Linked DNA regions of Homo sapiens: region 2 is linked to region 1. Evidence: fine-mapped expression QTL. Tissue or cell type: thyroid. Region 1 holds a variant in brackets; the other region holds the start of a gene. All regions are shown on one strand. Distances are between the middles of the regions.

What was found. PIP is the estimated chance that this variant, and not a neighbour inherited with it, causes the effect.
Region 2: it holds the start of TLN1, and the variant in region 1 is fine-mapped to the expression of TLN1 in thyroid (GTEx, PIP 0.97).

What each region holds. Positions count from the first base shown.
Region 1 is chr9:35,646,746-35,651,854 of GRCh38, forward strand. SIT1 (signaling threshold regulating transmembrane adaptor 1) reads right to left here and starts at 4,186. Exons shown (of 5, transcript NM_014450.3): 1 at 4,009-4,186; 2 at 3,757-3,892; 3 at 3,612-3,670; 4 at 3,439-3,500; 5 at 2,550-3,336. The coding sequence starts at 4,108. The coding sequence ends at 3,103. LOC101926948 (a long non-coding RNA gene) reads left to right here. Exons shown (of 2, transcript NR_135130.1): 2 at 1-731. It also overlaps a transcript of CD72 not described here. RefSeq lists enhancers at 1-76, 2,937-2,986 and a silencer at 3,897-3,966. The variant G/T (reference allele first, on the strand shown) is at 2,362.
Region 2 is chr9:35,730,156-35,735,303 of GRCh38, forward strand. TLN1 (talin 1) reads right to left here and starts at 2,040. Exons shown (of 57, transcript NM_006289.4): 1 at 1,920-2,040. It overlaps CREB3 (cAMP responsive element binding protein 3), which reads left to right and starts at 2,511. Exons shown (of 9, transcript NM_006368.5): 1 at 2,511-2,746; 2 at 2,841-2,988; 3 at 3,060-3,127; 4 at 3,241-3,330; 5 at 4,954-5,060. The coding sequence starts at 2,618. MIR6853 (microRNA 6853) reads left to right here and starts at 2,767; the gene lies at 2,767-2,840. RefSeq lists enhancers at 148-207, 1,597-1,646, 2,447-2,496, 2,547-2,636 and silencers at 1,827-2,116, 2,157-2,316.

The DNA of each region.
Region 1 (5,109 bases):
GCCGGTCAGCTGCGTTCCGCGAACTTGGGAGGCGACTGCTGGGGTAGCGGCGGGGCCCTCACTGCGCGTCGTCAGGGACCAGACCCTGGGGTGGCCCCGAAGCGTCGAGACTACAACTCCCGGGATGCCGCGGGCCAGGCTGCATCCCGCCTGCGCAGAAGTGGTGGCAACTCCGCCCCTCGCCAGGCGGCGGCGCTGCGGACTCAGTCCTAAGCGGGCGAAGGCGGCGAGCGCCGTGGGTCTGGGCGGGCCAGGAGAACCGGGTGCTTCGAGGAGATCTGCGGGCTGGGTTGGGGGCGTTTGACCCCTTGGCTTGTCCCAGTGGGTAGGCGGGACTCCAACCCCCGCCTCCTCCAGGGTAAAGCTCTCACGTCCACCTGGCGCGACGCTGAGCCATCTTCAGAAGCACCGCAGCCCTCAGAACCCCACATCCCGCTGCCGGTGGTTCCCCGCATCCGGTGTCCGCCCCCGAAGCCTCCCTCCCTCCCTCCTCCGCATCCCCAGCTACCTGCCCTTAACCGCGACCTGGGCCTCTCCTGGGGAGGCCCAGGGTGGGGTCCTCAGAGGTCCAGGGACCCAGGGGCATTTGTGGGGTCTGTAGGGGGGTGGGCTTAAGGGAAGGGTGGTCCCTTTCAAATTGGGACCACCAGGCAGGAATCAGGCGCACGGGTTCCTCCTCTGTGGCTTCCTGTGGCACTCCAAGTGGGAAGAAGAGAAGCTTGGAAGTGAAAGCCTCAGCTTCTCCTTTCTTCAGCCCCTCAAGCCTCAGAAAGATCTGTCAAGCGCGGCCCGCCTCTACAGAGGCCCTGGGGAGATGGTCTAGACCTTGAAATATCCTAGAAGAGGTTTGACAGGTTGGAGCTTTTGCTAGACAGATGGATCACAGATGGGCTTAAGGGGTGGAGGGTGTGTGTGTGTTTGTGAGAGAGAGAGAGAGAGAGAGAGAGAGAGAGAGAGAGATTGCCAGGTGAGGAAGGTGATGAGCTGAAACCAACTTGGAGCTATGCTGTATTATGATGATGAGGATTTGGGTTGGGGGGTGTTACAGGCTCTAACCAGAAATCTGGAAGATGTGATAGGTGGGGCCTTTAAAAAAAAAAAAAACCCTAAACATCTCTTTGTAATCCATCCCTCCTCTGCATCCCTACCGCTACTGCCGCCATCCCCTCTCACTCAAATCTTGCAATAGCCTTTGAAAGGCGCCGCCTGACTCCAGACTGCTGACCACTAGATCAGCACAGCAGCCAGTGGAGTTAGAGCCTTTAACTCACTGTGTTCATCCCTCGCTTAAAACTTTCAGTGACTCCCTTTCACCTCCCCTGCAGGATAAAGCCCAAGCTCCTTGGCATGACTTATGGGCGCAGTGTGATCTGGCTCTGTCTGCCCCTCCAGCCTCATCTTACCATTGCCCCCATCTCACTCTACCCTCCGCTGTGCCTAATGCACTTCTGCCAGGTCCTCTGAATAAGCCTCTCCTTTGCCTGTGGTTCCCTTTGCCTTGGAGCATTTTCTGTCCTTCGCTTCTCCTGGCAGATTCCTACTATGTGTCATGTCTCTACCTAGAAGTCACTTCACCTATGAGCTCCCATAGAGGATCCTGTATTTCTCTTATTTTAATAATGCCTAGCATTATTGAGCATTTATTGTCTAAGTGCTTTACAAATGGTAACTCATTCAGCCTCACAACCACCTTTTTTTGAAGTAAACACCGTTAATATCCTCTCAATCTTACAGATTCAGAAACCGAGGCACAGTTGCCCAAGAACACACAGCTGGTAAGTGGTAGACATGGAATTTGAATGCAGGCAGTCCGGCTCCTGAGCCCAGAGTCCTAATCTCTGTGCCAACTGGCTGATGTAGCATGCTATATGGGGTAGGAGGCTGGGGTTAAGAATCAGCAGGTGATGGGTGGACAGGCAGGACAAATTAGATGGGGATTAAAATGAAAGTGGTGACAAGCAAAACTGTTGCCAAGACTGCAGGTGACAACTGAGAGAGTGAAGGCCAGGCACGGTGGCTCATGCCTGTAATCCCAGCACTTTGGGAGGCCAGAGTGGGAGAGAGTGAGTGGAGATGGACCGCTGCCATAGTGATGGGGTAAGGAGAAGGCCTCTAGGGGTATACGATGACTAAGTGCAGATAAGGCTACTGATGTCAAAACAGGGGTATAGGTGGGACTCATAGCGGACAGACGGAGGTCAGATTGGAGGACTTGATGAAGGAACCAGGCTGGCAGGTTGTGGAGGTGATGGCAGTTATAGAGGTCAAGGGGAGAGTAGCTCAGGACTGTGAGCTTGCAGCCCCAGGGGGAATGCAGTGGCTCTGAGTGCAGATCCCAGGGGTGTTCTAGCAGCAGCAACA[G/T]CAGCTGAGGAGCTGGGCTCTGGCCCTCCACCCCGGTGCCCACCTCTGCACTGTTGATGCCGCAGCCCCTCTTGGCCCCTCATCCCCAGCTAGGCACCCCCAGAAAGAGCTCCGTGCAGACAGCAAAGCTCACACCCCCATCTGCAGGGCCCTTTGCAAGTCTTCAGCCTTCTAGGTAAAAATCTAAACACTTTTTGGAAAGTTTTATTTGAAAACTTGGGGACAGGACAGAGACAGCAGGATGGAGACTGTATTCTCCTGCTAGGGTTCTTAGGTCAAAAGCCAGGCTCGGGTCCCTCCCGTCTCTAAGTTCCAGGTCCACTCCAGTCTGTGGACTCCTGAGGAATATACCCACCCACCCACTGTCAGGCCCTTACCCCTCCCCCACCGCCCACTTCCTGTGCCTGAGGAGACACTGAGGCGTGGGGGTAGACTATGAGGGAGCGGGGGTGGGGAGGATCTGGTTAAACTCCAGAAGAAGGAAGTGAGAACCTGGGAGTTTGGGGGCTAAGAGGAACAGATAGAAAAAAGAAATAAGGAGGGGGCTACTGTCTTTGCCTCCTCCATCACGAAAGCTTTGCCCTGAGATGTCTCCCTTGAAGCTCAGATAGGAAGTCCGGGGTAGATCACATCCTGTGACTTGGCAATGGCGCCCGTCTTTGGGTGCTGGTTGGGAAACAGTCATGCCCCTGCTACGGGGGGCTGGGGCAGTGCACGCCCCGCTGTGCCAGGCCCTCCATCTCAGCTGGCTGCAGGCTGGCTGTTGGCATAGGCCTGATCCGGGAAGGAGGCCCGGGCCCTGCGGGTCTGGGCACATACTGAGGCATAGAGCTCCGGCTCGGGGCCCGAGGCCTGGGACTTTGGCTCAGAGTCCAGCACCACCTCCGAGTACTTGACGGGGGTTCCAGGACCGGGGATCCGACCCTGAGGAGGCCGCAGCTGCAGGCTGGTATAGCACATCACCTCCTCTGCAGCCTGGAGATGCAAGGCTGTTAGAAGTTCACTGGACCCTCGGAAAAGCCCGAAAAGCCCCCCACTTCCTTCCCTCCCCCTTTTCTCCAGCCACAGTTGACTCACCCTGGCAGGGCCTCCAAGAGTTGGATCCTGCTGGTCTGGCTCTGGGTCTTGAGACAGCCGTCCTGGGACGGGGAACAGGAATCTGGTCAGCAACTTGTCCTTCCTCCTGCACGCCCCCATCCCAGCCACCCAGGACCTGGCCTCTGTGCCCCTCCTCTCTGCCAGCTCCCTACCTGTCTGTAGATAATGCAGGTTCCCATACAGCGGGACCTCTTCCACAGACTCTCCAGAGCTGCAACGCAGAGTTTAGGGGATGAGTGGGGACTTCTCGGTAAGAGAGAACTCTCAGTCAACCCATCCCTGTTGTCCTTCACCCACCGTCCCTGCCCCGGATGGCTCCTGCTCCGGCCCCTGGTCCACTGGGACAAGTGTGCAGCCAGCGAGATGAGAAATAGCAGCGTCACAGCCCCTAAGAGGACCCACAGTCCCCAGGCCTGGGTTATGGAGGGGATTCCTGTGGATGTGAAAGGAAGGGGGGTGTAACAGCCCCGCCCCACCCCCAGGGCCCAGCAGGTGGGACCTGGGGCCACATGACCCCTCCCCCACCAGCCCCTGCCCTGCCCAGCTCACCCAGTGCGAGTAGATCCGTGCAGTTGTCGCCTCTGCTCATGGCTGCAGATGTGAGAGTCCACAAGCACACTGCTCTGAGCCGAGGGTCAGCCTGGTTCATGGCCTGACGGTTTCCACAGCACTTCTTACTCCCATCCCTCCTCAGGCCCGTACCCCGCAGCTCAGCATCCCCAATACTGGTGGTGGCAAAGTCTCTGGTTTCCGGGGAGGAAGGGGGAGGGGAGGGATGAAAAAAAGAACAAAGACCCCGCCCTGTGCCTGCACCTGCGCCACTCCTGCAGCTCCTGAGCTTCCCCCACCCTCGCTGCCCAGGCCCTTTGCCCCCCTTGAGAAGAGAAGCAGGCCTGTGGGTAATGTGCCACGGGCAGTTGAGTCCCTGAGGACTCTGAGGGCGGGGGGTGGGGGCAGAAGTGGTGTGAAGCAGGACTAACAAGGACAGGAACACCCCTTCTGCTCCAGGATGCCCACCTTCCTCCCTGACTCTGGTCCCAGAAGAAAGATGTATTCCTCAATGAGTATGGTATAAAGTGGAAGGGTCGGGGGAGCCTCCTGGTACCTCTGATCCCATCACACCCTAAGGCTGATCTGAGAGGATATGTGTTTAGATGATGCTTGTTATTGTTTCATTGGGGGCATTATAATTTGGGGGACACCCCCAAACCTCCCCTTTCAACCCACTTCATCCAAACTGTCTGTAAGAACTGTCACTCTCAATAATTAATTGCATTTTAAAACTCTTTGCTGTAGGACTGTCCTGGGAAACTGAGCCCTATCTTGCACATGTTCACTTCAGCGGGTGTAGTACCTGCCATACCTAGAGCTAACTCCATCACGTGCAAGGCTATTGATGTAGGAAGAGGGATTTTAAGTTGCAAATATAAACCTGAGACCAGAAGTCAGAGATGTGTTTTGTCTAGCCCATACAACATTTTTTAAAAGTTTAAAATCAGTGCAGTGGCATGCCAACAATAGGGATGGCAGAAGTCCTGCCCCTTGAGTTGCAGGCAATAAGGGGGTGCATTGTCTGTAGAGAATTTAAAAAATAAAAATCAGTCCTCTTATTATCACCATGTTCCAGAAATTCTGAAAAAAAAAATCAGT
Region 2 (5,148 bases), 83 kb after region 1:
TGAGAAGAGCTGGGCCTGTGGTCAGTCACTAAATCAGACTGGGGTGGGGGTGGGAAAGTGAAGGGACATTGGCAATGTCTAAGTAAAGCTGGAGCTGGGATGGGGGATGGGGTACAGCCAGTGGCTGGGTCAGGCTGAGTAGAGGATAGTGCTGTGGTCAGTGGCAGGGTCAGGCTGGGAGTGAAGTGGGGGTGTGGTCAGTGGCCTGGCTGGGCGTGGGATCAGCAAGACCCAGTTTCCTCTTTGGGTCTCGTTTCCTCTTTTCTGTTGGGGAGTGGGGGAAGGGGATCTACAAATGGTCCAAGAAATTAAAAGAGGCTTAGATCCAGGGGGTGACACACAGCAGGGGATGGGAGTAGGGTATTCAGCAGATGACCAGGTGGAATGTAGGTACATGACTGGGTGAAAATGGTAGGAGAGTAATTTAAAATGATGGGAAAGCTCAGGTTTTGATGAGGGTAAATTCAGGTAGGATGTGCGGATTAAAGGTTGGTGAGGGAGGTAGAACTAAGGATGGGAACGGATGATAAGATGAGCATGGGAGAGTTAAAGGCAAGGGAAGTATTTTGTAAGGGGATAGGCAGGATGGGTGTGAAATGCAGAGTCAGGGATGAGAGTTGGAGAGGAGGGCTTAATACCAAGAGAACAAGTGAAGTGGGAGAAGCAGGGCTAAACTTTCAGGGGATTCAGTTATTCCCTTCTCCCATGGCAACAGTGATTCCTTGGTTAGCTTCCCCCATAGTCATCAGCTCCTTCTTCCCTAGGCAGTCCCCAACTTGTGACTAGGCCTTGTACATCCTGGGTCCCTATTTCCCACCTATGTTGTCTGTAAACAACACAGTCCAGAATCTCTGTCCCCTAACTGTGGTGGCCACAGCAAGGGCCTTGGGCTTAGAGAATGGAATAAAGAAGCTGGAATCCCAGATGCCTGCAATTCTAGCTAAAGCCAGAACGCTAGCCTGAAATTAGTTTATCTCTCTGGGTAAAAAGAAGCCCCTGTAACTACATAGGAATAAAGGATTTCCCTACAAAAGAAGGGCATTTACCTACTGCCAACCTCTTAAATTTTATCTGCTCAAGGTCAACTATGCTAGCCTCAAACCACAACCCCTAAAGCTGCCCCAAATTCCTAACATTAACCCCACCTCTAATTTGTTTCCTGATTCCCAGTACCGGCTTGGACATTCATCCCTTTCCTAGCACAGACTCATATCCAATCCCTGATCCCTGAAACTGATCTAAGTTTTGCCTTTAGCACCAAATCCCCTGATGTTAACCCTAAATGTTGACCCCTAAGCCTAAAGTTCATTTATAATTTGATTCCTAACTCACGCTTTCACTGTTTATCCTTAACACCGACCATGCCAACATTCTTTAATCCCTCAAACAAGCTCTAACCTGATTCCTGTTGTTTGTTGACCCTTAACCTGACCCTGAACTCAAATTATGACGTATGATGGCCATCCCAGCAAACAAGATAATGACCGTAATCTAAACCTTACCTATCTAAAACGGACCTGACTCACACTAACTCTTAAGTTTTAACCCCAGCTTTTAACTCCTATAGCGACCCTTGATTCCTAAACGGACCCCACCTAATCCCCAACTCACCCAAAGCTTTCCTACCCACATGCCCGCTATCAGCTAACACCAAAGCCCGTCCCCGCCCTGCGCCCCGCTGCCACCCGACTCCTCACGCTCCCCAAAGCCTATCCCAGACATAGGACTGCTCCCAGGAAAGGCCTGTCTTCCCCAAGACGGCCTACTTCACGCCGAGCTCAAGCCGAGATGCGCTGGACGCTGACCTCTCCAACTAATAGGACCCGAACCGGACACGCAAGAGAGGCAGGGCCCGCCCGCCCCGGGGCCAGGCCCCGCGGCCCCACCCTAAGGCCCCCGCCCGGCCCGGTCTGGCCTACCTGCGCTGCCTGGCTCTGCGCCCCGCCCGCCGGCCCGCCGCCCCGCCGCTTCTCGGGTCGCCCTCGGGCTCCGGCCTCGCCCTCCCTTCGACACTCTCTCGGCCACTTCCGTCCTGGGAACGTCCCCCACCCGCGGGCGGCGCCCTGGGCCCGCGCTCTATGGTCGCGGGGGGCAGGCAGGAAGCTGCTCTGGCCCCGTTCTCGATGCTCGGGAGCCGCCAAAGCCCGGCAGCCCCTCCCTGGCAGGAAGCGAGGGTGCGGCGCAATCCGGAGAGGACGCCAGGACGACGCCCGAGTTCCCTTTCAGGCTAGAACTCTTCCTTTTTCTAGCTTGGGGTAGAAGGCGGAGCCGGAGCCCCGGAACCCCCGCCCTCGGGGTGCGAGGCGGCAGCAGGGCCGTCCCCTACATTTGCATAGCCCCTGGGACGTGGCGCTGCACCCAAGCCTCTTCTCAGTTGGAGGGAACTCCAAGTCCCACAGTGCCACGGGGTGGGGTGCGTCACTTTCGCTGCGTTGGAGGCTGAGGAGAATTGAGCCTGGGAGGCGGGTCCGGAGAGGGCTATGGAAAGCCGCCGGCGGGGAATCCCGGCCGTAGAGGGACAGTGGATAGGTGCCCGAGGCCTACAGCTGGCCTGGGGCTCGTGTCTGGGCTTCGGACGTTGGGGCCCGGTGGCCCACCCTTTCCGTAGTTGTCCCAAATGGAGCTGGAATTGGATGCTGGTGACCAAGACCTGCTGGCCTTCCTGCTAGAGGAAAGTGGAGATTTGGGGACGGCACCCGATGAGGCCGTGAGGGCCCCACTGGACTGGGCGCTGCCGCTTTCTGAGGTAGGTTGGGGTTCTGACTGGGGAAAGCGTGGGATGTCCATGAAGTCAGGTGATGGTGATAAGGTCAAGGCCTGTTCATTGGAACCCTGCGCAGGTACCGAGCGACTGGGAAGTAGATGATTTGCTGTGCTCCCTGCTGAGTCCCCCAGCGTCGTTGAACATTCTCAGCTCCTCCAACCCCTGCCTTGTCCACCATGACCACACCTACTCCCTCCCACGGGAAACTGTCTCTATGGATCTAGGTGAGTCTGAAATAAGTTTGCGGGGAGGACAGGGTTCATGGGCCTGGCTATTCATACTTTCCCTTTTGCAGAGAGTGAGAGCTGTAGAAAAGAGGGGACCCAGATGACTCCACAGCATATGGAGGAGCTGGCAGAGCAGGTACTTGACTTGATTTTCAGGAGATTACTCTCACATTCCCCAGGTGGGGGCAGGATTCCCCATTCCTCTCTGACATCCCCATGCAACTGCCGTCCACTTTCTTGTTACCCTAGGAGATTGCTAGGCTAGTACTGACAGATGAGGAGAAGAGTCTATTGGAGAAGGAGGGGCTTATTCTGCCTGAGACACTTCCTCTCACTAAGGTAAGACTCTCATTGGTTGAACAAAGGCTGAAAAGGGATTAAAAGTCCCAAGTAGGCAAATTCTGTTAACTTTATATCAATAACTTTAAAAAAGGATTGAGGTGAGAAACTTAGTAGATTTATTGCTAATAGGAAGTTGAGGCAGGTACACAATATGCCAGATGCAAGGGCAGATCCTCGTTTTTGTTGGGCTTATACAAATTTTGGTGTTCTGTTAAAAAAATAACTCAAAATTATCAGTGCAACATTAGTATTGGGCCTTGGAAAGGACTGTGTAAGTGAAGGGCCTTGACACTTCGTTGGCTTCATAGTAATCCACCTCTTGCTGAATGGTAGAACTGTTTAGAGAGTTCAACAGGGTTGGACTAAGCAGTACATGAATAAATGTAAAATCCTTAGTTTTCAGTTTTAAGCAATGAGTGGCAACTTCACAAGCAGAGTACTGGGGTACTATGATGAAATCAGTGCTCATTAATAGAAAGGTTACAGGAATATATATATATTTTTTGACAAGGTCTTGCTCTGTTGCCCAGGCTGGAGTGCACTGATGTGATCATGGCTCACTGCAGCCTTGACTTTCTGGGCTTAGGTGATTCTCCCACCTCAGCCTCCCGAGTAGCTGAGACTACAGGTGCACACTACCCTGCCCGGCAATTTTTTTTTTGGTATTTTTAGTAGAAATGGGGTTTTGCCTTGTTGCCAGGCTGGTCTCGAACTCCTGGGCTCAAGTGATCTACCCACCTTGGCCTCCCAAAGTGAAGAATTTTAATTTCTTCAAAGTACAAGATGAGTCAGCAGTGTGATGTGGCTACTAAGAAAGTTCATGGGATTTGGAAACTGTAGCAATAGAGTTATTGTCTCTACAAGTCACTCTCTTGCTTTCCTTGATACTGGCTAGAGCACATCTTTGACAGATACTAAGAGGATGCAGTCTATCCTGAGAAGATGAGTTAAAAATTTTGTCTTTTTTTTTTTCTTTAAGCTCTGAGGAAATGTTAAGTGCCTTAAAATAGCTAAACAGGGTTTATTCTATTTGGCCCCAGAGATACTAGGTAAGTCCAACGGATAGAAATTATAAGGAGGCAGCTGTTGGTTCAGGATAAGGAAGTTTTTATTTGCTTGTTTGAAGACAGGTTCTTGCTTTATTGCCCAGGTTGGAGAATAGTGGCGAGATCATGGCTCACTACAGCTTCAACCTCTCAGGCTCAAGTGATCCTCCTTCCTCAGTCTCCTGAGTAGCAGGGACCACAGGCATGTGCCACCACACCCGGCTAATTTTTTATTTTTAGTAGAGACAAGGTCTCACTATGTTGCTCAGGCTGGTCTCAAACTCCTGGGCTCAACCGGTCCTCCTGTCTTAGCTCCCCAAAGTGTTGGGATTACAGGCATGAGCCACGTCGCCTGAATACTGCCCGACCAGTTTTTTTTTTAATAGTTTAAAATGGTCTGGCTTGTTAGGGTTAACACCTGGTCCGTGGAGGCATTCAGAAAGAATCTGAATGCCTGTTGGTCAGGGAAGCTGTAGAAGGGATTTCTGTATTGGAAAGAGATTGATCTCAGTTGCGTTTCAACTCCTTTTTCTAGAGTTCCTCTAATGATATCCCTTTCCCTGTTTCCTTTCAGACAGAGGAACAAATTCTGAAACGTGTGCGGAGGAAGATTCGAAATAAAAGATCTGCTCAAGAGAGCCGCAGGAAAAAGAAGGTGTATGTTGGGGGTTTAGAGAGCAGGTATGAAAGGGAGAGGGACTCTGTTGTAAGTATTAGGTTTTTGAAGGGAGGATACAGGCCATATCCCCGTATCTTTGTTATTTCCCCC